Homo sapiens: one gene and its partners. The protein of the gene in region 1 purifies or fractionates together with the protein of each later gene. This does not show direct contact. Each region holds a gene or a part of one and is shown on either strand. Other genes may lie near its edges. The genes, in order: CAST, LZIC, ZDHHC5 and PPME1.

The links.
Region 2: the proteins of CAST (region 1) and LZIC fractionate together in Homo sapiens (co-fractionation; one large-scale study listed by BioGRID). This does not show direct contact.
Region 3: the proteins of CAST (region 1) and ZDHHC5 purify together in Homo sapiens (co-immunoprecipitation; one large-scale study listed by IntAct). This does not show direct contact.
Region 4: the proteins of CAST (region 1) and PPME1 fractionate together in Homo sapiens (co-fractionation; one large-scale study listed by BioGRID). This does not show direct contact.

The regions. Positions count from the first base shown.
Region 1 is NC_000005.10:96,769,031-96,773,513, forward strand, and holds part of CAST (calpastatin), read left to right. Parts: intron 1-1,500; coding exon 1,501-1,572; intron 1,573-2,613; coding exon 2,614-2,649; 3' UTR 2,650-2,672; intron 2,673-3,609; 3' UTR 3,610-4,483.
Region 2 is NC_000001.11:9,924,313-9,929,891, reverse strand, and holds the end of LZIC (protein LZIC), read left to right. Parts: 3' UTR 1-3,599; downstream 3,600-5,579.
Region 3 is NC_000011.10:57,691,147-57,696,725, forward strand, and holds part of ZDHHC5 (palmitoyltransferase ZDHHC5), read left to right. Parts: intron 1-1,464; coding exon 1,465-1,556; intron 1,557-2,636; coding exon 2,637-2,769; intron 2,770-4,773; coding exon 4,774-4,897; intron 4,898-5,579. UniProt on the Homo sapiens protein: Palmitoyltransferase that catalyzes the addition of palmitate onto various protein substrates such as CTNND2, CD36, GSDMD, NLRP3, NOD1, NOD2, STAT3 and S1PR1 thus plays a role in various biological processes including cell adhesion, inflammation, fatty acid uptake, bacterial sensing or cardiac functions.
Region 4 is NC_000011.10:74,177,064-74,182,642, forward strand, and holds part of PPME1 (protein phosphatase methylesterase 1), read left to right. Parts: intron 1-5,579. UniProt on the Homo sapiens protein: Demethylates proteins that have been reversibly carboxymethylated. Demethylates PPP2CB (in vitro) and PPP2CA. Binding to PPP2CA displaces the manganese ion and inactivates the enzyme.

The DNA of each region.
Region 1 (4,483 bases):
TGTGTAATTCAACAAGTGTGAGGCATTTTCCCTCAAGCTACACCCTCTTGTAAATCAAATAGAAGGAAACGTGAAATGAGTACCTCCTTGTTATTTTCAGGAGAGTTAATTCTGCAGATCTCAGTTTGCTATTGTTTTGGCTGTTCTAAGGCACTGCTCTCGATCACTGAATTGTCAGCCCTTCCATACTGGGTAGCTTAATTTCTAGACCACTTCAGCATCCTATCTCTCACCCCTGGTAACTCGTAAGTAATGCCTTTTTTGGTGAATGGACTTTATTTTTATACGTAACCTGCTCCAGCTTTCCTCGGTTGTTTCCCATTGTTCATTTCTCTCCCATAACACTGAAAACAGGGTTTTTTTTTGTTTTTTTTTTTTTGCCTTTTGGTACACAAAAGCCAGTCCTGATCGAGACAAGCTCTATTTTGTTTTTTAAATACATTTTATTGTGTATATTTGAGGTTTACAACATGGTAGTTTGGGATGCATAGAAATAATAAAATGGTTACTGTAGGGAAGCAGATTTACATATCTATCATTCTCACACAACTACTTTTTGTGACAAAAGCAGCTAAAATCTACTTAGTTAACAAAATCCCTAATACAATTTTATTAACCTTAGTCCTCATGTTATACATTAACTCTCTACACTTGTTCATTCTGCATATCTGCTATTTTGTATCCTTTGACCTATATCTCTGTTTCCTCCTCCTGTTCCCTACCATGGTCGCCATGTTTTATTCTCTGTGTTTTTGAGCTTTTTCTTTTATATATATTCTACATATAAGTGAAATCACTTTTCTTTCTGTGTCTGGCTTATATCATCTAGTATAAGGTCTTCCAGGTCCATCCATGTTGTGACAAATAGTAGGATATCGTTTTTTAAGGCTGAATAATATTCCATTATGTATATATACATGACATTTTCTTTATCCATTCATCAACAACTAGGTTGTTCCATATCTTGGCTATTGTGAGTAATGTTGCAGTGAATATGGGAGTGCAGATATCTTTATAAGGTGATAATTTCATCTCCTTTGGGTATATACCCAGAAGAGGGATTACTGGGTCATACAGTAGTTCTACTTTTAATTTCTTTAGGAACCTATATACTGTTTTCCATCATAGCCCATACCAATCTACATCCCCACTGACAGTGTACTAGGGTTCCCTTTTCTCCACACCCTTGCCGACATTTATTATCTATTGACAAGCTCTGTTTTGATTAGCAAAATAAGGTCTGGGTGAGTCAGGCACCACGGGAATTAGAGCATCAATGTCACCCACATTTCCCTCCTTATTTCTATCCTTTTTCCCTCCTGCTTTAAACAATTCTCTGACACCGTTGTTCAAAAAAAATCATGAAAAAACACCCAAAGTCTTCCATTATTTAATTAAATTGGAGATCTCAGAATGGTCTGGATTAATTTAACTGCAGCCTAGTTAATTGCTAGATGGATTGGTGATAGCCATAGCCTCATTACATTTCCTTTGCTTTAGGATAAGTGCAAGAAGGCTGCTTCCAGCTCCAAAGCACCTAAGAATGGAGGTAAAGCGAAGGATTCAGCAAAGGTAAATGGAGCAGTAAATATACTACAAATTAGTTTAGCAGTTACACAGAGTAGGGTTTATCATTTCAGTCATTTAGTTTCCTACTGGAATCTATTTAGAATAAAATTTCTTAAAGTACTATCTATCCCATAGCATCGCTTGGTAAAGTAATTGAATTTGTATAAATACATATATTTTTAAGTAACTGGTGCTTTAAAATCCTAAATGAATGTTCTTGACACAACCCAATTTGCCTGTGTTTTGCCTGTCTTTCTTGCCCTAATTAAAATACCACCATAGTATGTGGTTTATATAGATTTTAGAACATGGAAGTTGGAAACTTCCTATTATTAAAATTACTCAAGCTGTGATGAGAAATGAAAATTGGATTAGACAACTTCTAGGTCCCTTCCAATTCCAAGAACATATGATTTAAATGATTATTACTATGATCCCCTGGCTATAAGGAGGAGTTAAAGGTGTAGCTTTAAAGACAATAGTCCAGTTACACCAAAGCTTTTAAAACAATATATTAAAATCTTCCTGTAGTAGATTCCCTTAAGGGATATAGGAAACAGCATTGATAATTGGCAGTTATGCCATTATATCTCAGTTTAAATACTTATTTGCCTATTATTTAATTTCAGTTATACGAAGTACTTAATCAGCCCTTTAACAAATAATAGAAAGCATAATAACCCTTTATGATGAGTGGATTTACTGGACAGCCATGACCCTATGTACAGGAAAGGAAGGATCACCACAGAATGAAACATTGCCATTTAAGAACACCTATGCATATTTTATAACCTACCCTAGCCTTAAAAAAATAAAGCTGAGAGTGATACATTTAGGATCAGGATCACTTAAGGTTATTTTTAGCTTATAAGCTTGAGGAGGAAGAACTCACAATATTGTGGCCAGATGAAGAAGAGAAACTGAAAGGACCATCTTATTTTTCCCCACTGACTGCCATCTTTTGTCCCCTAATTCTGAGAAGGCCATCTCCTCATACTTAATACAGAAAAGAAAGCTCACGGATGGTTTTGCTTTCCCTTTTAGACAACAGAGGAAACTTCCAAGCCAAAAGATGACTAAAGAAATACAAGTTAAGGTATCTGGTAAGTTGGGTGTTTATTTGTAAATGAAGACAACTGTATCTTCTGCCAATTTATGTGTTATAGATGAGAGAAGTGAAGTCCACCTCTTGAGTAATTCATGCTCACTTTACAGTATTGGCATGAAATGCATACTGCAAGATCTACAGAGTAATTGGTCATTCTCTGAAAGCACTAAATGGGATGAGTTTGCTATTGAAATGTTTAAAAACCTTAATCTTATAATTAAAAGCTTTTAAAAATATTAGGCCAGGCACTTAGAATGACCATCTGAGGCTAGTTGAATCTTTGAAATCCAAATGCTCATTACTGCAGGTTATTGTGGCAAAGCAAAATTAGCATGTTACAACTTAGCGAAATGTCCTGAAGACATTGGCATTCCCCAGAATACCAATACATGGTGGGGTGGGGAGAAGTACCCTTTAGAGTCTGGTGGAAATTACAGGGTTTTGGGAACAAGGGCAAAGGAAAAGATTGGCCATTTTTATTTGTCATTATTTTGGAAAGTAAAGTACTGTGTTTGATTCTAATTTATAATTGCTGAAGAAACTGGACAGATTGAAGGGATTTCTGAGATCTTCAGAACTGGGCCCTTATCTTAATCTTCAGAAAGGAGAGGGCTTAATGTAAGCCTTAAAAGCATACAAGCACTTACTGACCAAAGCCTAAAAGAAATCAAAGTATAGGTTAAATCGGGTTCAGCTCTCTCACCATGATCCATGTTTATTTCCTAGGAAAAAAGGAGCTATATTAGGTAGAACTGCTCTAACATTTTTCCCAAAATTAAAAAAAATTCTATTAATCCACTTTCATGTTTACTTATAGGAAATTCCTTCTGTCTGTTATACAATGCTTTTGCTAAGTGGTATATTTACTATGTCTGTAACAAGAAAATTACATATTAAATGATTCACTGCATTTTTTATTTGAAATTTTTAAGGTATCTGCATGTAAAATCTTCAGCTGGTGGATGGTGACTTTTGAAGAACAAAAGGCTTTGGCAACAGAAAACAATTGTTCTGGGTGATTTCTAGAATGGTTTTTGTTGAGTCTCTGAACATCCTAAATATTGGTTTGTTATTCTTTTCCAGAAAGAAAATGAATTTGACTGGTTCACCTGTGTACTGAGTATTGATAAACTTTGAATTTTTTTAATTGCCTTCAATTGGGAGAGAAAGCTTTATATTTGTAAGAAATATATTTGATAAAGTTTCTTAAAGCAACACCAAAAAAACAAAAGAAAAGCTAAGTGAATTTTTGCACATTCTACACACAGTGCCTGTAAATCTCATTTGTATTTTCAGTTTGCCCTTAATTTTTTTTGTTAGTGTTTAGAAAACAATGTTTTAAACATTCTTCAGTGTTCTGATTTCTTATTACCCCCTTTCCTCTTGGGCTTTTGAACTGTATTTGATGTTGCTTTGGGATAATGTTTATAAGTCAAACATAAGATATTGTACATTGGGCACATATCTCCTCTTGGGCTGCTAATAATAAATTAATAACAGGTAACCTGGACAAACCAGGAAGCACCAAACCCCTTTTCAGTTTGAACTCTTCTTTGCCAGGTGTGAGGACTTCTGCATCTTACAGTCAGCACAGAACACACTGAGACTTGAATCAAGTCAGCAACAGAGCAAAATAAAGGTTAGATAAGTCCTTGTGTAGCAAATTTCGAGCATAAGAAATAAAATCTAATTAATTCTTAGGGTACTCATCTGACTTGAACTCTGTTGGTTTACTGTGTTAGTAAACTGTGCTTTCTATTATCTATACATAAAACCTGAGCAGCAACTGTGTCTTTAGAGCTATTG
Region 2 (5,579 bases), on another chromosome or scaffold:
CTTTGCTTAAAGTCGCATCAGAGAGCTGAGGGTAAGACTCAGGTGTCCTGACTCCCAGTTTAGTATCTTTTGAATTTTATTTCTGTACCATTTAAAAAAAATAATTAACACTATTTGTGCAAGTCAGTGTTTTTGAAAATTCAGTGTCCCAATAAAAAGTGGACTGCACACTAAGGGACCATCCCCCAGCCTGTAAGCTGTCTGTATTAATGGGGCCCGTTGTATCTCGGAATTTTGAGGTTGGAACAATGGGAGCCCTGTTGAGCGTTTCCTAAAGTGACTTAGCCGCCTGCGTTGTTTGACCAGGGAAGCAACAGGAAATGGCAGCTAGAGGCCCTCCCTGTGCGTGACCTCTTGTCACACTCAGAGGGGGGTAACTGTCAGCTGTTATCTACTCTTCAGGTTTTGGAGAAACACAAAATAAGTTATGAGGAAAAGCAAATTTCTCTCCTGAGTATTTACATGTCTCTGTATGCTCAAATATGCAGATGTGTCCCTATGCGTGTATATTAGCTTATTTTTTAGGCTCTAGCCATTTTATATTCTTTCATGTGCTTCTCAATATTCTTTTTCTTTGCACTTTATACAAATTAAAAGCATTTTTAAAGCTTCTTCTGTACTGTAAACTACTAGGTGCTTTGCCAACCAGACAGATTAGAGGACCTCCGCTACACTGATGCCTTATTTGGAACTTAAAAGAGGTGAAATTCATATATCATAAAATTCACCATTTTAAAGTGTACCATTCGTTGGCAGAACATTTACAGTGGTGTGCAACCATCACTACTCTCTAGTTGCAGAACATTCTTATCACCCCCAAAGGAGGCCCTATACCTATTAAGCAGTTAGTCCCCATTCCCTTCTCCTCCGACTGCTAACAATAGCCACTAATCTGCACCCTGTCTCTGTGGATTTACCTATTCTGGATATTTCATATAAATGGAATCATATGATATGTGACCTTTTTATGTATCTGGCTTCTTTCACTTAGCATAATATTTTCTTTTCTTTTTTTTTTTTTTTTTGAGACAGAGTTTTACTCTTATTGCCCAGGCTGGAGTGCAATGGCGCAATCTCAACCTCCGCCTCCCAGGTTCAAGAGATTCTCCTGCCTCAGCTTCCCAAGTAGCTGGGATTACTAGTGTGTACCACCACGCCCAGCTAATTTTTGTACCTTTAGTATAGAGACAGGGTTTCACCATGTTGGCCCAGCTGGTCCTGAGCTGACCTCAGGTGATCCAACTGCCTCGGCCTCCCAAAGTGCTGGGATTATAGGTGTGAGCTACCACACCGGGACATCATCATATTTTCAAGTTTAACCAACATTATAGCATGTATCAGTACTTTATTCCTTTTTATGGCTAAATAATATTCCATTGTATGGATATCATATTTTGTTTATCCGGTATCTGTTGATGATTTGGGTTGTTTCCTTCTTTTGGCTATTGTGAATAATGCTTCAGTGAACATTTGTGTACAAATATTTGTTTGAATACCTGTTTTCAATTTTTTTGGGTGTACACCTAGGAATGGAATTGCTGCGTTTGTTGTTGTGTTGTTGTTGTTGTCGTTGTTTTTTGAGATGGAGTTTCACTCTGTTGCCCAGGCTGGAGTGCAATGGCGTGATCTCGGCTCACCACAACTTCTGCCTCCCAGGTTCAAGCGATTCTCCTGCCTCAGCCTCCCGAGTAGCTGGGATTAAGGCATGCGCCACCACACCTGGCTAATTTTGTGTTTTTAGTAGAGATGGGGTTTCTCCATGTTGGTCAGGCTGGTCTCGAACTCCTGACCTTAGGTGATCCACCCGCCTCAACCTCCCAGAGTGCTGGGATGATTACAGGCATGAGCCACCATACCCGGCCTGAGCCACCACACCCAGCCTACGTTTGTTTTTTAAGCCATAGAAGATTCTTCCCACCAGTCGGGCACAGTGGCTCACACCTGTAATCCCAGCACTTCAGGAGGCCAAGGCGGGCGGATCACAAGATCAGGAGCTCAAGACCAGCCTGGCCAACACAGTGAAACTCCATCTCTACAAAAATTAGCCAGGCATAGTGGCAGGTGCCTGTAGTCTCAGCTACTTGGGAGACTGAGGCAGGAGAATCACTTGAACCTGGGAGGCAGAGGTTTCGGTGAGCCGAGATGGCGCCACTGCACTCCAGCCTGGGCGACAGACTGAGACACGGTCTCAAAAAAAAAAAAAAAAAAAAAAAGAGGAAGAAGATTCTTCCCTTACCCTGCAATAGTAGACCAGAAAAATTAGGAATATCTTGAATTTGAAAGGGACCTAATGCCTGGCACAGTGGCTCACGCATGTAATCTCAGAACTCTGGGAGGCAGAGGTGGGCGGATCGCCTGAACTCAGGATTTGAGACCAGCCTGGCCAACATGGTGAAACCCTGTCTCTAAAAAAAAAAAAAAAATTAGCCAGGCGTGATGGCATGCACTTGTGGTCCCAGCTACTCAGGAAGCTGAGGTCAGAGGATCACCTGAACCTGGGAAGCAGAGGTTGCAGTGAACTGAGATCACGCCACTGTACTGGCTGACAAAGTGAGACCCCTGTCTAAAAAAAAGATAAAGAGAGTTACCTGAATCTGGAATCCTTAATCTTGGTTTTCCTTAAACTTTCTATAAGTCCAGCATCTGAAATATTTTGTCAATTATCACATTAATGTGTTCATTTTGTAAGTAAGAGTACTCAATTTAAAATGATCTTACTTTAAAAGTGGCCTAGTTTGCAGTGCCCAGCAGGACACTGACAGTCACAGCTGTGTGACTTTTTGTGGGTTACTTAATTTTTTTGAGCCTCCTTTTCTCTTCTATTCAATGAGGATAATAGGGCCTACCTCATAGGATTATTATGCATTCCCCTCTGTTAATGCACGTAAAGTTTTTACTTGGAAAACTAACTCACCATTTAACAACCATTCTAAGCACCATAGGATATATTTTGTTTCACAAATTTGGTATTCATTCAGAATAAGTATTTGAAAAGTGAGTAAATTCTATGCAATTATAGTTATTAAATGACTTATAAACTGTGTTTCTCTTCCACTTCTTGCTACATTTAATCTTCTAGGTGTTCAGATATCTTTGGAGATTATAGGCAGCAATAAAGCTAAGGCAGCTAACCTTTCAACATTCTTGTGTCAGGCTAATATTTTGGTGAAAGGAATTCTTGTGTTTCTCAAAGAACTAGAGCTGAAGCAGAAATAAGTTCCAATGAGCAAGTGTCCAATCGGACCATTGAATGAAATCTAGTGTTTTAAACAATTCTGATGTTTCAATGTTTTGTTCTGTTTTCTTTTGATCTTGTGAGCAGTAAGACATATTTTATGTGGGTGGTAAAGGAAGAAATCAAGTAACAGAATGAGGAATTGTTCCCAGGAAGAGTTAGAGTTGGGACAAATGGGTTGTTAACTTTGATTTTTAGATCTTCTCTGAAGACATTAAACATGGAATGGTCATCTTTAGAAAAATAAAAGACTATGCAACTCCACCACTGAAATGGTATCTTATTACAGTGAATGATGGATAATCTGAAATTACTATAGAAAAAAATAAACCCAGACCATTTTGCCTAGAGCCTTTCAACCACCTTTCTGTCCACGTTTTTCTTTTTTATTCTATTTATTGCTAAGACCAGTGAATGTTCTTCTTTGCCTTCCAAAATGTTTTCCAGCATTAGTATGTAAATTAAAACTGTCGGCAGGGCGCCGTGGCTCACACCTGTAATCCCAGCACTTTGGGAGGCGGAGGCGGGCAGATCATAAGATCGAGACCATCCTGGCTAACATGGTGAAACCTTGTCTCTACTGAAAATACAAAAAATTAGCTGGGCGTGGTGGCGGGCGCCTGTAGTCCCAGCTACTCAGGAGGCTGAGGCAGGAGAATGGCGTGAACCCGGGAGGCGGAGCTTGCAGTGAGCCGAGATTGCACAACTGCACTCCAGCCTGGGCAACAGAGCAAGACTCCATCTCAAAAAAAAAAAAAAAAAAAAAAAAAGGCATGAGTGGTGGCTCATGCCTGTAATCCCAGCACTTTGGTAGGCCAAGGTGGGCAGATCACAAGGTCAGGAGTTCAAGACCAGCCTGGCCAATATGGTGAAACCCTGTCTCTACTAAAGATACAAAAGTTATCCAGGTGTGGTGGCGTGTGCCTGTAATCCCAGCTACTCAGGAGGCTGAGGCAGGAGAATCACTTGAACCTGGGAGGCAGAGGTTGTAGTGAGCCAAGATCTTGTCACTGCATTCCAGCCTGGGCGACAGAGGAGACTCTGTCTCAAAAAAAAAGAGTTCACAATGGAAAGTCGATACTGTTGAAGAGCTTCAGCAAAGTTGAGAGGTCTGAGGCTGTCAACTGGAAGCTTCCTAAATGCTTGGTTATTTTTCTACCAGAAAATCACACTGCTTATTGCTTACAGCCTCAGGCAGTTGAATACAATTAAAAATAAACCAGCAAAAATATCATTTATTATAAAAGAAGTCAAGGAGAGCCATCAAGTTTTTCTGTGTGTTTGTTTTTTAGAGTGAAGATAATGCTGGTAAGGGTTTTTTGTTTGTTTGCTTGTTTGTTTTTGAGACGGAGTTTCGTTCTTGTTGCCCAGGCTGGAGTGCAATGGCCCGATCTCGGCTTGCCGCAGGGTTCAAGCAATTCTCCTGCCTCAGCCTCCTGAGTAGCTGGGATTACAGGCATGCGCCACCATGTCCAGCTAATTTTTTTTTTTTTTTTTTTGTATTTTTAGTAGAGATGGGGTTTCTGCATGTTGGCCAGGCTGGTCTCAAAGTCCCGACCTCAGGTGATCTGCCCACCTCGGCCTCCCAAAGTGCTGGGGTTACAGGCGTGAGCCACTGCGCCCGGTGGTAAGGGTTATTTCTAAGATGATACATCAGCCACAGATCCTCTGCCTCAGCCTCTGGCGACTGTAACTGAATTTTGAAGCCCCCCCTGCAAAACCTCCTGCTGAGCTGTGTTACAGTTATGACTTGGTTTGAGAGTTTCTGCTACCTTGTCTATTTCCTGTAAAACATCGTAGCAGGTCAGGTACTGTTTTTTGGTCACTACTAAATTGTCATATTACACGAGGCTATTCTTTACTACTAAAGGAGCTTAATTTTGTTGTTGTTGTTTTTTCCCCAACATTATTCCTTCAATACTCATTAACCAGGCCAGATTGAAAACAGAGCCAGCCTGAGCAATGTGGCGGAATGCCATCTCTACAAAAAAACACAAAAATTAGGCCGGGCACGGTGGTTCACGCCTATAATCCCAGTACTTTGGGAGGTGGAGGTGGGCGGATCACAAGGTCAGGAGATGGAGACTATCCTGGCTAACACGGTGAAACCCCATCTCTAGTAAAAATACAAAAAATTAGCTGGGCATGGTGGCATGCGCCTGTAGTCCCAGCTATTTGGGAGGCTGAGGCAGGAGAATCGCTTGAACCCGGGAGGCGGAGGTTGCAGTGAGCTGAGATCGCGCCACTGCACTCCAGCCTGGGTGACAGAGCAAGACTCCGTCTCAAAAAAATAAATAAATAAATAAAATAAAATAATATGGATATTGGATAGAGCCTTTTTTTT
Region 3 (5,579 bases), on another chromosome or scaffold:
CTGCAACCTCTGCCTCCTGGGTTCAAGCGATTCTCCTGCCTCAGGCTCCCAAGTAGCTGAGATTACAGATGTGCATCACCACGCCCAACTAATTTTTGTATTTTTAGTAGAGACAGGGTTTCACCATGTTGGCCAGGCTGGTCTCGAACTCCCGACCTCAGGTGATCCACCCACCTCAGCCTCCCAAAGTGCTAAAATATCTTTTATTTATTTATTTATTTATTGTAATTTTAGTAGACACGGGGTTTCACCATGTTAGCCAGGATGGTCTCGATCTCTTGACCTCGTGATCCGCCCACCTCGGCCTCCCAAAGTGCAGGGATTACAGGCATGAGCCACTGCGCCCAGCCTAAAAATATATTTTATAACAAAATAATATCTATCTCCAAAGAAAGTCTTGGATGGTTTGGCATCATCACCTGAAATATCAATTGAGAGACCCAAACCAAACTGAAACTAGACAATATAGCATAAAGAATAAGATGATAGTTTTTTAAACAATACTCACCATAGAACTTGGTATCCAAATAATAGTATTCTTTCTTTAGTTTGTCAAAAATCATATTAATAGATTTTTAAATTTAAAGTGTAGCAAGACATATGTATATGTACATATATGTTCATATACATATAAATATTTAAGATCTTCCTAAAAAAAAAAAAGAATAGAGGCCACTTCTTAGTTAACAGACATTTACTATATGCCCACTGGATACTGGAGAATTTAGGCTCTGAGTTTATAGAAACAATGAAAGACTTAGGCTAGCCCTCAAGAAGCTTATAGTGCTGCTTACAGGAAAGCAATGATTTTTGTGCATATAATAGTAGCTAACCTTAATTGCTTTTTTTTTTTCTTTTTTGAGACAGAGTATCGCTTTGTCACCCAGGCTGGAGCCCACTGGCTGGAGCCCACTGGCTGGGGCGCAGTGGCACGATCTCGGCTCACTGCAACCTTTGCCTCCTGGCTTCAAGCAATTCTCCTGCCTCAGCTACCCAAGTAGCTGGGATTGCAGGTGCCTGACACCATGCCCGGCTAGTTTTTATATATTTTTATAGTAGAGATGGGGTTTTGCCATGTTGGCCAGTTTGGTCTCAAATTCCGGACCTCAGGTGATCCACCTGCCTCAGCCTCCCAAAGTGCTGGGATTACAGGTGTGAGCTGCCATGCCCAGCCCTTAATTGCTTATTCTTTATCTTAGTTTTCAATATTTAGAAAGCTATCCCATTTTACATGAGGAAACTGAGGTTTTGGGTCAGCAACCATGAGGTAGACCTAGGATTTGAACTAAGGACCCTGACTGTAGATTCCCTGCTCTTAACCATAACATATATAAATTTCTTGTGTTTTACTCATTTGCATAGCCCTCAGATAGTGAGTGCACAATAACTTGTAATAGATTTGTATTTTGGCCTTTGGAAGTCAAGGTCTCATCTTCTAACCTGGTATTTTTTTTCTCCCTCTAGGTTACGGGTAAATTCCGGGGAGGTGTGAACCCCTTCACCAATGGCTGCTGTAACAATGTCAGCCGTGTTCTCTGCAGTTCTCCAGCACCCAGGTACACCTATCCCTCTGGTCTAGTGTTTACCATTGGTCAGAACTTTTATCTTCTTTGGGCTTGTTCTGGTAAAGGAGGGGTCTGGTGAGAGCCTTTAGGAAGGGTTCTCTATCTTAGAATGTTAAGTACCCACTCTATCTTAGAATGGTAAGTAGTCTATCTTAGAATGGTAAGTACCTACATGCCCATCCTTTAGTGCAGTGGTCCCTAACCTTTTTGGCAGCAGGGACCGGTTTCATGGGAGACACTTTTTCCACAGATGGGGGCTGGGGTGGGGTGGTTTCAGGATGAAACTGTTCCACCTCAGATCATGAGGCATTAGATTCTCATGGCTGGGTGTGGCGGCTCACACCCAGCACTTTGGGAGGCCGAGGTGGGCGAATCACTTGAGGTCAGAAGTTCAAGTCCAGCCTGGCCAATATGGTGAAACCCCTTCTCTACTCAAAATACAAAAATTAGCTGGGCAAGGTGGCAGGCACCTGTAATCCCAGCTACTTGGGAGGCTGAGGCAGGATAATTGCCTGAACCCAGGAGGCAGAGGTTGCAGTGAGCTCAGAGCACACATACAACCTAGATTGCTTGCATGTGTAGTTTACAACAGGGTTCTAGGGTTTGCGCTCCTAAGAGAATCTAATGCCTCCGCTGATCTGACAGGAGATGGAGCTCAGGTGATAATGCTCACTGGCCCACTGCTTACCTCCTGCTATGTGGCCCAGTTCCTAACAGGCCATGAACCGGTACTGGTCTGCGGCCCAGGGGTTGGGGACCCCTGCTTTAGTGGACACTGTGAATTCCATTGATATTCTTCAGGTATTAAGGTAAATCTTTGAGAATTGAGGGTGAATAAGATACACTCTAAAGTGCTTTCCTTGAGCTAGGTATCTGCTCACAAAGGCCTAGTCCTGCTGCAGTCCTTCACAGAATCAATTCTGTTTATTGCTAAGTAAGTGATGGCCAAAACTGCAATTACTTTTTTACCAACCTAATAAAAATGGTTTACAGAAACAGTAGATACTTTAAAATATAAATGAATGAAAGCTCTCTCGCTGTGTCTCTCTCTCTCTCTCTCTCGACACTTAGGTATTTGGGGAGACCAAAGAAAGAGAAGACAATTGTAATCAGACCTCCCTTCCTTCGACCAGAAGTTTCAGATGGGCAGATAACTGTGAAGATCATGGATAATGGCATCCAGGGAGAGCTGAGGAGAACAAAGGTGAGGAATTTAGAGAAGTCAAGCTAGATAACATGGAAGTCTCACCCAAGGCAAAGAGACGGAAGCTTGCTTTAGTTTCCTTTGTGTTTTTTTTTTTTTTTTTGAGACAGAGTCTTGCTCTGTTGCCCAGGCTGGAGTGCAGTGGTGCTCAGTGCAAACTCTGCCTCCCAGGTTCAAGCAATTCTCCTGCCTCAGCCTCCCGAGTAGCTGGGATTACAGGTGTCCGTCACCTTGCCTGGCTAATTTTTGTATTTTTAGTAGAGATGGGGTTTTGCCATGTTGGCCAGGCTGGTCTCGAACTTCTGACCTCAGGTGATCTGCCCACCTCGGCCTCCCAAAGTGCTAGGATTACAAGCATGAGCCACCACGCCTGGCCCATATTTCTTACAGTGTTTATCACTTACTAATTTGGGTTAAAATTACTTAAATACAAATCTTGTTTTCTACATTAGATTTTTTTTTTTGAGAGGGAGTCTTGCTCTGTTACCTAGGCTGGACTCCAGTGGTATGATCTCAGCTCACTGCAACCTCTGCCTCCCAGGTTCAAGCGATTCTCGTGCCTCAGCCACCTGGGTAGCTGGGACTACAGGCATGCGCCACCACGCCTGGCTAATTTTTTTATTTTCAGTAGAGGCAGGGTTTTCCTATGTTGGCTAGGCTGGTCTCAAACTCCTGACCTGAAGTGATCCAACCCCCTCAGCCTCCCAAAATGCTAGGATTATAGGTGTGAGCCACTGCACCCGGCCCTACATTAGACTTTAAGTTCATTAACAATAGAAAATGAATTCATTCATTTCCATGTCTTCATAGGACTTAACAGCTTACAGCTAGATGGTAGGAGCTAAACAAGTAGTTGTTGGTTTAAATGGGCAAATAAGTGACAGAATTAAAACCTTTTTTAAACCCTTTCTTCTGCCAGGTACAGTAACTCATGCCTATAATCCCAGCACTTAGCGAGGCTGAGGTGGGAAGATCGCTTGAGTTCAGGAGCTCAAGACCAGCCTGGACAACATAGCGAGACTCCATCTCTAAAACAGACTAAAATAAAAAATAGAAAAATTTTCTGGCTGGGCGTAGTGGCTTATGCCTGTAATCCCAACACTTTGGGAGGCTGAGGTGGGTGGATCACCTGAGGTTGGGAGCTCGAGACCAGCCTGACCAACATGGAGACACCCTGTCTCTATTAAAAATACAAAATTAGCTGGGCATGGTGGCGCATGCCTGTAGTCCTAGCTACTTGGGAGGCTGAGGTAGGAGAATTGCTTGAACCCGGGAGGCGGAGGTTGCAGTGAGCCGAGATCATGCCATTGCACTCCGCCTGGGCAACAAGACCGAAACTCCATCTCAAAAAAAAATTAGCCAGGTGTGGTGGCACATGCCTGTAATCCTAGCTGCTTGGGAGGCTGAGGCATGAGAATCGCTTGAACCTGCGAGCCAGAGGTTGCAATGAGCCGTGATCACGCCACTGCACTCCAGCCTGGGTGACTGAGCAAGACTCCATTTCAAAAAAAAAAACCCAACTTTTCTTCATCTAATGCTATACCCAAACTGATTCTTGTGCCTTGTCTTCCAGTATAGTTGAGAAATATATGATAGGCAGTGGCTCATGTCTATAATCCCAACATTTAGGGTGGCCAAGGTGGGGTGATATTGCTTGAGGCCAGGGGTTCAAGACCAGCTTGGGCAACATGGCGAGACCCCCATCTCTACAAAATAAAGTAAAATAAATTAACTGGGTGTGGTGGCATGTGCCTGTAATCCCAGCTACTTGGGAGGCTGAGGTGGGAAGAGCACTTGAGCCTAGGAGTTGCAGGCTGCAGTGAACATGATCATGCGTACCACTGTACTCCAGCCTGGTCAACAGAGTGAGACCTTGTCTCAAAAAAAAAAAAAAAATACATGAGAATTGACTCCCAAATACCTCCCTCTTATATCAATTTAATACTTTGAGTTGCCATAATGCTCAATTTCTAAATCTGATTTTCCCTCCCTTCATCAATCCAGTCTAAGGGAAGCCTGGAGATAACAGAGAGCCAGTCTGCAGATGCTGAACCTCCACCTCCTCCTAAGCCAGACCTGAGCCGTTACACAGGGTTGCGAACACACCTCGGCTTGGCTACTAATGAGGGTAAGGGCTGCCTTGATTTGCAAGATACTAGAACTAGGGGCAGGATTGAGAAGGTTGCTTATGAGCTGTGGAAGACAGGCAAGGGCTGGGAGATATTACTCGTGTTGTGACTTTAAACACCCAACAGTTGGTACTTGTGCTACTTTGCAACTGAAAGAGAAGAGAGGCCATTTAGCTATTGGCAGTGAATGGGACTTTTGCCGGGAAAATGGTCAGCCTCTAGGCAGACCAGAGAACATCACAGAACCTTTTTGGTGCATTTACCCACCCTGAATTCTGGGCTGGTGTGAGTCTTTAAAAGTCTTGATTTCAGCGAAGGGTATATCTATTCCTACCTTGTCCTCTCCCTGTACTTAAGGAACCCTAGGCAGATAAAGTGAACAACTCATAGACTAGACGCAGTGGCTCACACCTGTGATCCCAGCACTTTGGGAGGCCAACGCAGGAGGATTGCTTGAGCCCAGGAGTTCAAGACCACCCTGGGCAACATAGCAAGACTCTGTCTCTACAAAAAATTTAAAAAAGTTAGCTGGGCATGGTGGCATATGCCTGCAGTCCCAGCTACTCAGGAGGCTGAGGTGGGAGCCCAGGAGTTCAAGGCTCCAGTGAGCTATAATCGTGCCACTGCACTCTAGCTTGGACAGTAGAGTGAGACCCTGTCTCTTAAACCAAAAAACCGCTT
Region 4 (5,579 bases), on another chromosome or scaffold:
GGAAAAGAAGACATTTTATTTTTATCCAAAGGCTATCTAGTTGTTTTCATCATTTATTAAATTTTTTAGTCCTTTACCCATTACGTAAATTTCACTACAATAAAGAAATAGTCCTGGCCAGGCTCAGTGGTCCATGCCTGTAATCCCAGCACTTTGGGAGGCCAAGGCATGTGGACCACTTGAGCTTGGGAGTTGGAGACCAGCCTGGACAACATGGTGAAACCTCTTCTCTACAAAAATCACAAAAATTTAGCTGGGTGTGGTGGTGTGTGCCTGTAGTCCCAGCTACTCTGGAGGATCATTTGAGTCCGGGAAGCAAAGGTTGCAGTGAGCCAAGATAATGCCCCTGCACTCTAGCCTGGGACACAGAGTGAGACTTTGTCTCAAAAAAAAAAAAAAAAGTCTTCTTTCTCACTGATTAAAATGACACCTTTGTCATATGCCAAATTTCTATATAAATCCGGGTCTGTGGAGTTTCTTTTACGTGCCACTACTGTACTTTTAATTAGAGGATTTATTAATATGTTTTGATGGGTGGTAGAGGTTGTTTACCCCTCATTCATTTTGAGGATTTTCGTGGTTCCTCTTGTTTTTTTCTCACAAATAAACTTTCTAATCCCATAGACTAGTGCCAGAAAAAAATCCTGATAGTATTTTTATTGGGATTACATTAAATACAAACATTAATTTAGAATAAACGTTTTTATGATGTTGAATGTTCCTTGAAGAAATATGGTATCTTTCAATTTGTATGAATCCCTTTTGAAGGAAATATATTTCAGATTCCAAGTATTGACCTAAGTTATATTCAATCTAATATTACTTAAATTCAATAGTACTCTTAAATAATTGTGAAACTCAGTAGATTTACTCTTTAAATACAATTAAGTCTACAAAAATCCCCAAACTCACATTAGCAACATTATATTGATGTGAAACAATCTAATTTGCTGTTATCAGTTTACTGTAGTTTAAACTACAAGGACATTTATTATTGATAGGATGTTCCAGGGTTCATTCAGTTGCTAAACAATTTCATTCAGGACCCAGGCTGTTTGCATCCTTTCTTTTGCCATCCTTAGAATGGTGGCTTTTCCTTCTCTTGCTTGTCACCTTATGGTTGCAGGATGGCTGCTGCCACTCTACTTCTATCTTATCTTTACAAATAAAAAGAAGCGGGGGCCAAAGTCCTTTCCTAGCTAAGCTTGTCTTTTAATTTTTTCCCAGAAATGCAAGCTCCCCAACAGATTTTTCCCTTAAGTCTTATTGTCCAGAACTGTTCACATACCCATCCTAAAACCAATCACTGGCAGTAGGGAATGGGATTAACTATGACTGGTTTAGACCAATTTTGATTCATTCCCTTGGACTGGAGGAGAGACAACAAGAGATCTCCACTAGCTGCTCAAACAAAAGTATTACAATTCTGTTAGGGAAGAGAGAGTGGGAAGTGGGCAGGTAATGTCTGGAATAGAGAATAAACAGCATCTGGCCCAAATCCTGAGGTTAACAAGTGGAGAAGCCTAATCTTCTGATTTCAACTTCCCTACTGTTTTCATTGCAGTGTAAGTATAGGAAGTAATAATCCCACCCCCAACTCCCCTGCCCCTTATTGCCAGATTTCAGCCCCTTGACATTCATTTCAGAACTTCTGAGTAAAAGTCCGTTTTTCCATTGTTGCTTATTGCCAGCAAATCTATTTCTTCTTAGTATCTCCAAAATTGGGTAATTTGCTCTTTTGTTTTATTTTAAACCTAATGAGCCTTCCATGTTATGCTACTTGATGTCAGATTTCAGAAAACATCTCTAGTTGTTTGGGAAAGACTGTTTCCTTCAAACTACAAAATAGTTTTTTTTTTTTTAAGAGAAGAAACTTTTAATTAATAGTTCTATTAAGAGGGTGGCCACACTTAGATATTCTTCAAATACAATATTGATTACAAGTTACAGGTATATTCTACCAATATATTTTGAAGATTGAATAAGAGATTATATTGAAAATTCCAATCATTTCAAACCACACCGGAAGACCGAAGTTGTTTACTTATCAGTCCTTTTCCTATATGCTTCTGTGTGTGTTTTTGGCCATAGACTTTTTCCAGGTTTAAGTAGACATCCTCTCTCTGCCACTAACAAGTTGTATGACTCTGGTCAGTTTCTCTTCCTGGGCCTCGTTATCATGGAAAGAAAGAACGCTTTGGCACCTGACGTACTTGTTTAAATCCAAGCTCCCCAGCCTGGGCAACATAGGAAAAACTTGTCTGTACTAAAACAAAACAAAACAACCAGGCATGGTGGTGCGCACCTGTTAGTCCCAGCTACTTGAGAGACTGAGATGGGAGAATCACTTGAGCCTGGGAGTTTGAGGTTGCAGTGTGCTGTGATCGTGCCACTGCACTCCAGCCTGGGAGACAGAATGAGACCCTATCTCTAAAAATAGTAATTATAAAATAAAAAGTCAAATCCAAGCTCCGGTGCTACCAAAAATGGCTCTGGGAAAGTTATTTAGTATTTCTGAGTCACCTTAAAATGAGAATACTTTAATGGTACTGTTCAAAACCATGCTTGGTACGTAATAAACACCTAGTTGTTTCCTTTCATAAAGTAAGATTTGAGTTAGATGATCTCTAACAGCATGATTCATGATGTAGTTTTTAGAATCCTGAAGTCTGCTGCTTAATGGCATGCCTTGGAGTAAGGAACACTTCAGACCTACCACAACCCTCAGCCAGCCATCTGGTTGCTTTCTTTTCATTCTCTTCAAAGTACTGCTAATAAGGACATTTTAAAAACAGTGGTGCCTTGATTTAAATAGCTGGCTGCAATTAAACTTCAGTATTTAGCCTCCACTACCAGACTCCTAGACTTTGACAGAATTTGTGACAACAAGTGATTAAGACTGCTACTGTGCCCATTCATGACTCATCAATAACTCTCTTAACAGACTTAAGCAGCCTAGATGTTGATGTGTTATTCCTATTTAGATTTGAGACATTCATGTAAAAACATACAACTTACATTTCTTGGTTATTGTTCTCTAGGCAAGGAAGGTTTTTCCTCCTTCCCTTTCTCCCCTTTCTCTCCTTCCTCCTGGCTTTCCTTAGGATTTGATCATATAATTTTGTTGGTTTTGGTCATTATCTCCTAGTAGGCATATCACATTGTAGACAAGCAGAACATTCTCTATTCTCCTTAGTCCTCTGAATTGTAATTATTGGTCAACTGTGTATTCCTCAAAACTGTTGAGGTTCATAAGGGTAGGAATTGTGTCTGAATTTTGCTGGTGCTTAGAATGCTGTCTCCTTTAGTGCTAACTGAACGAGAAACCCAAATCCTGGCCTATTTAACCCCGTTCTATAAGAACAACGTTATTTCCCCATCAGTTCCCTTAAGATGGTATAACTAGGGCTATACTGCCTTTCTCCTAAAAGCGGTTATACTTCATAGAATAATAGAATCTCTATTTCAATACCAGCTTTTAGGTAAAATGTATTGTGTTTACAATATGTTACTTTGAGATTTAAAATAATTATATGGTCGAAACTCTTGTAATAGGTCTTGTAATAGGCTTGTAATAGGTCTCATGATATGTACAGATTCAGGCTTGTTACTTTTATTTTATCAAAATTTGACAATTTATGTCTTCCTCTTTGATTCCCCAAACCTGAAAGCAAGTCCACTATTATAAGACAGCAAATGTCAATTAGCAATTATTTTCACACTAGCCTTATTTTATAGTATTCAATTTTTCTGCCCTTGCCCAATTTATCACTTATTCTCTAAGAGCGAAGACTATTTTCCAAGCACCTTCACCAAGTTTAGGGACCAGAGCAAGTGGTCCACCATTAAAGGCTAGTGTTAAAAGCGCTCCAAAGTCATGTCCTAAGCAGTGGTAATTTCCTAAGTGTTTCTTGCACTTAACAATTGCCAAGTTTATTTTGTTGGCAATGCCTTCCATTTTCTTCACTTTTTTTTTTTTTTTTTTTTTTTTTGAGACGGAGTCTCGCTTTGTCGCCCAGGTCGGACTGCGGACTGCAGTGGCGCAATCTCGGCTCACTGCAAGCTCCGCTTCCCGGGTTCACGCCATTCTCCTGCCTCAGCCTCCCGAGTAGCTGGGACTACAGGCGCCTGCCACCGCGCCCGGCTAATTTTTTTTTTGTATTTTTAGTAGAGACGGGGTTTCACCTTGTTAGCCAGGATGGTCTCGATCTCCTGACCTCATGATCCACCCGCCTCGGCCTCCCAAAGTGCTGGGATTACAGGCGTGAGCCACCGCGCCCGGCCCACTTTTTCAACTCCTATCCATCTTTAAAACTCATGAAGCACTTTCAGACTACTTTAGTTCATTCATTTGCTCTCTCTTCTCTGAGCACCTATAACAATTTTGGCATCTCCACTCATCAATTGTTTGCATTGGTATTGTACTTTTTCACTGTTACTGTGTCAGACTTATCGAAGATAATTTTATGCAGATTTTTGTGTGTTTCCTCAATAACATTTAGAACTCCTGTAGTGCAAGGACCTTTGTTTCTTTGTGCTTTCTACTGTAACACAGTTAAATGTTTTTGTAAAATTTAATTTAATGGACACATAGCACAAATTCATTTAAAATAAAGTTCTGAGGCTTTTTCTGATCAGTCCAGCTTGCACCGATTTTTCTATTTTCTGTCCTTTGGTGGCACCTGTCATTTTACCAGGAATCAGCAAACATTTTCTGTTAAAAGCCAGATAGTATTTTAGGCTTTGTGGGCCATGTTAGTCTCTGTTGCAGCTACTCAGCTCTGCTGTTTTAGAGTGAAAGTAGCCACAGACAATATGTAACTGAATGTGTCTGTGTTCTAACAACACTTTATGGACACTGAAATTTGAATTCCACATAATTTCCACATGTCATTAGTCTCTCTTCTCCCCCTGCCCTCCACCTTTTAAAAATGTAAAGATCATTCTCTGATCCTGGGCCATGCAAAAATAGGTGGTGGGCTGGATTTCCCGTAGGCTGTAGTTTGCCAACCCAGTTAGTTCTATACTTCTACTGTCTTGTAGTAGAAGGAAGGTAGGTTTTAAAATCAACAAACTAGGATTCTCTTCCTGGCTTTACTACTTACCGCTTAACTGGTGCAAACTTGACTTTATTTTTTTTTAAATGTAGATAATAATGCTAGCCTCATAGAATTTTTGAGGAGAAAATGAGATGATTTATGTGTAGAAATATTATTTAAATTGGAAAACTGTCTAATGGAAACTTACTGTATTTCCTCAATTCTAAGATACATTTCTTTTTTACATTTAAATTGATAATGTCTTTTTTTTTTTGAGACAGAGTTCTCACTCTGTCACCCAGGCTGGAGTGCAGTGGCATGATCTCGGTTCACTGCAACCTCTGCCTCACAGGTCCAAGCAACCCTTCTGCCTCAGCCACCCGAGTAGCTGGGTTTACAGGTGTGTGCCACCACGCCTGGCTAATTTTTGTATTTTTAGTAGAGACAGGGTTTCACCATGTTGGTCAGGCTGGTCTCAAACTCCTGACCTCAAGAGATCTGCCCACCTTGGCCTCCTAAAGCATTGGGAGATAGTGTCTT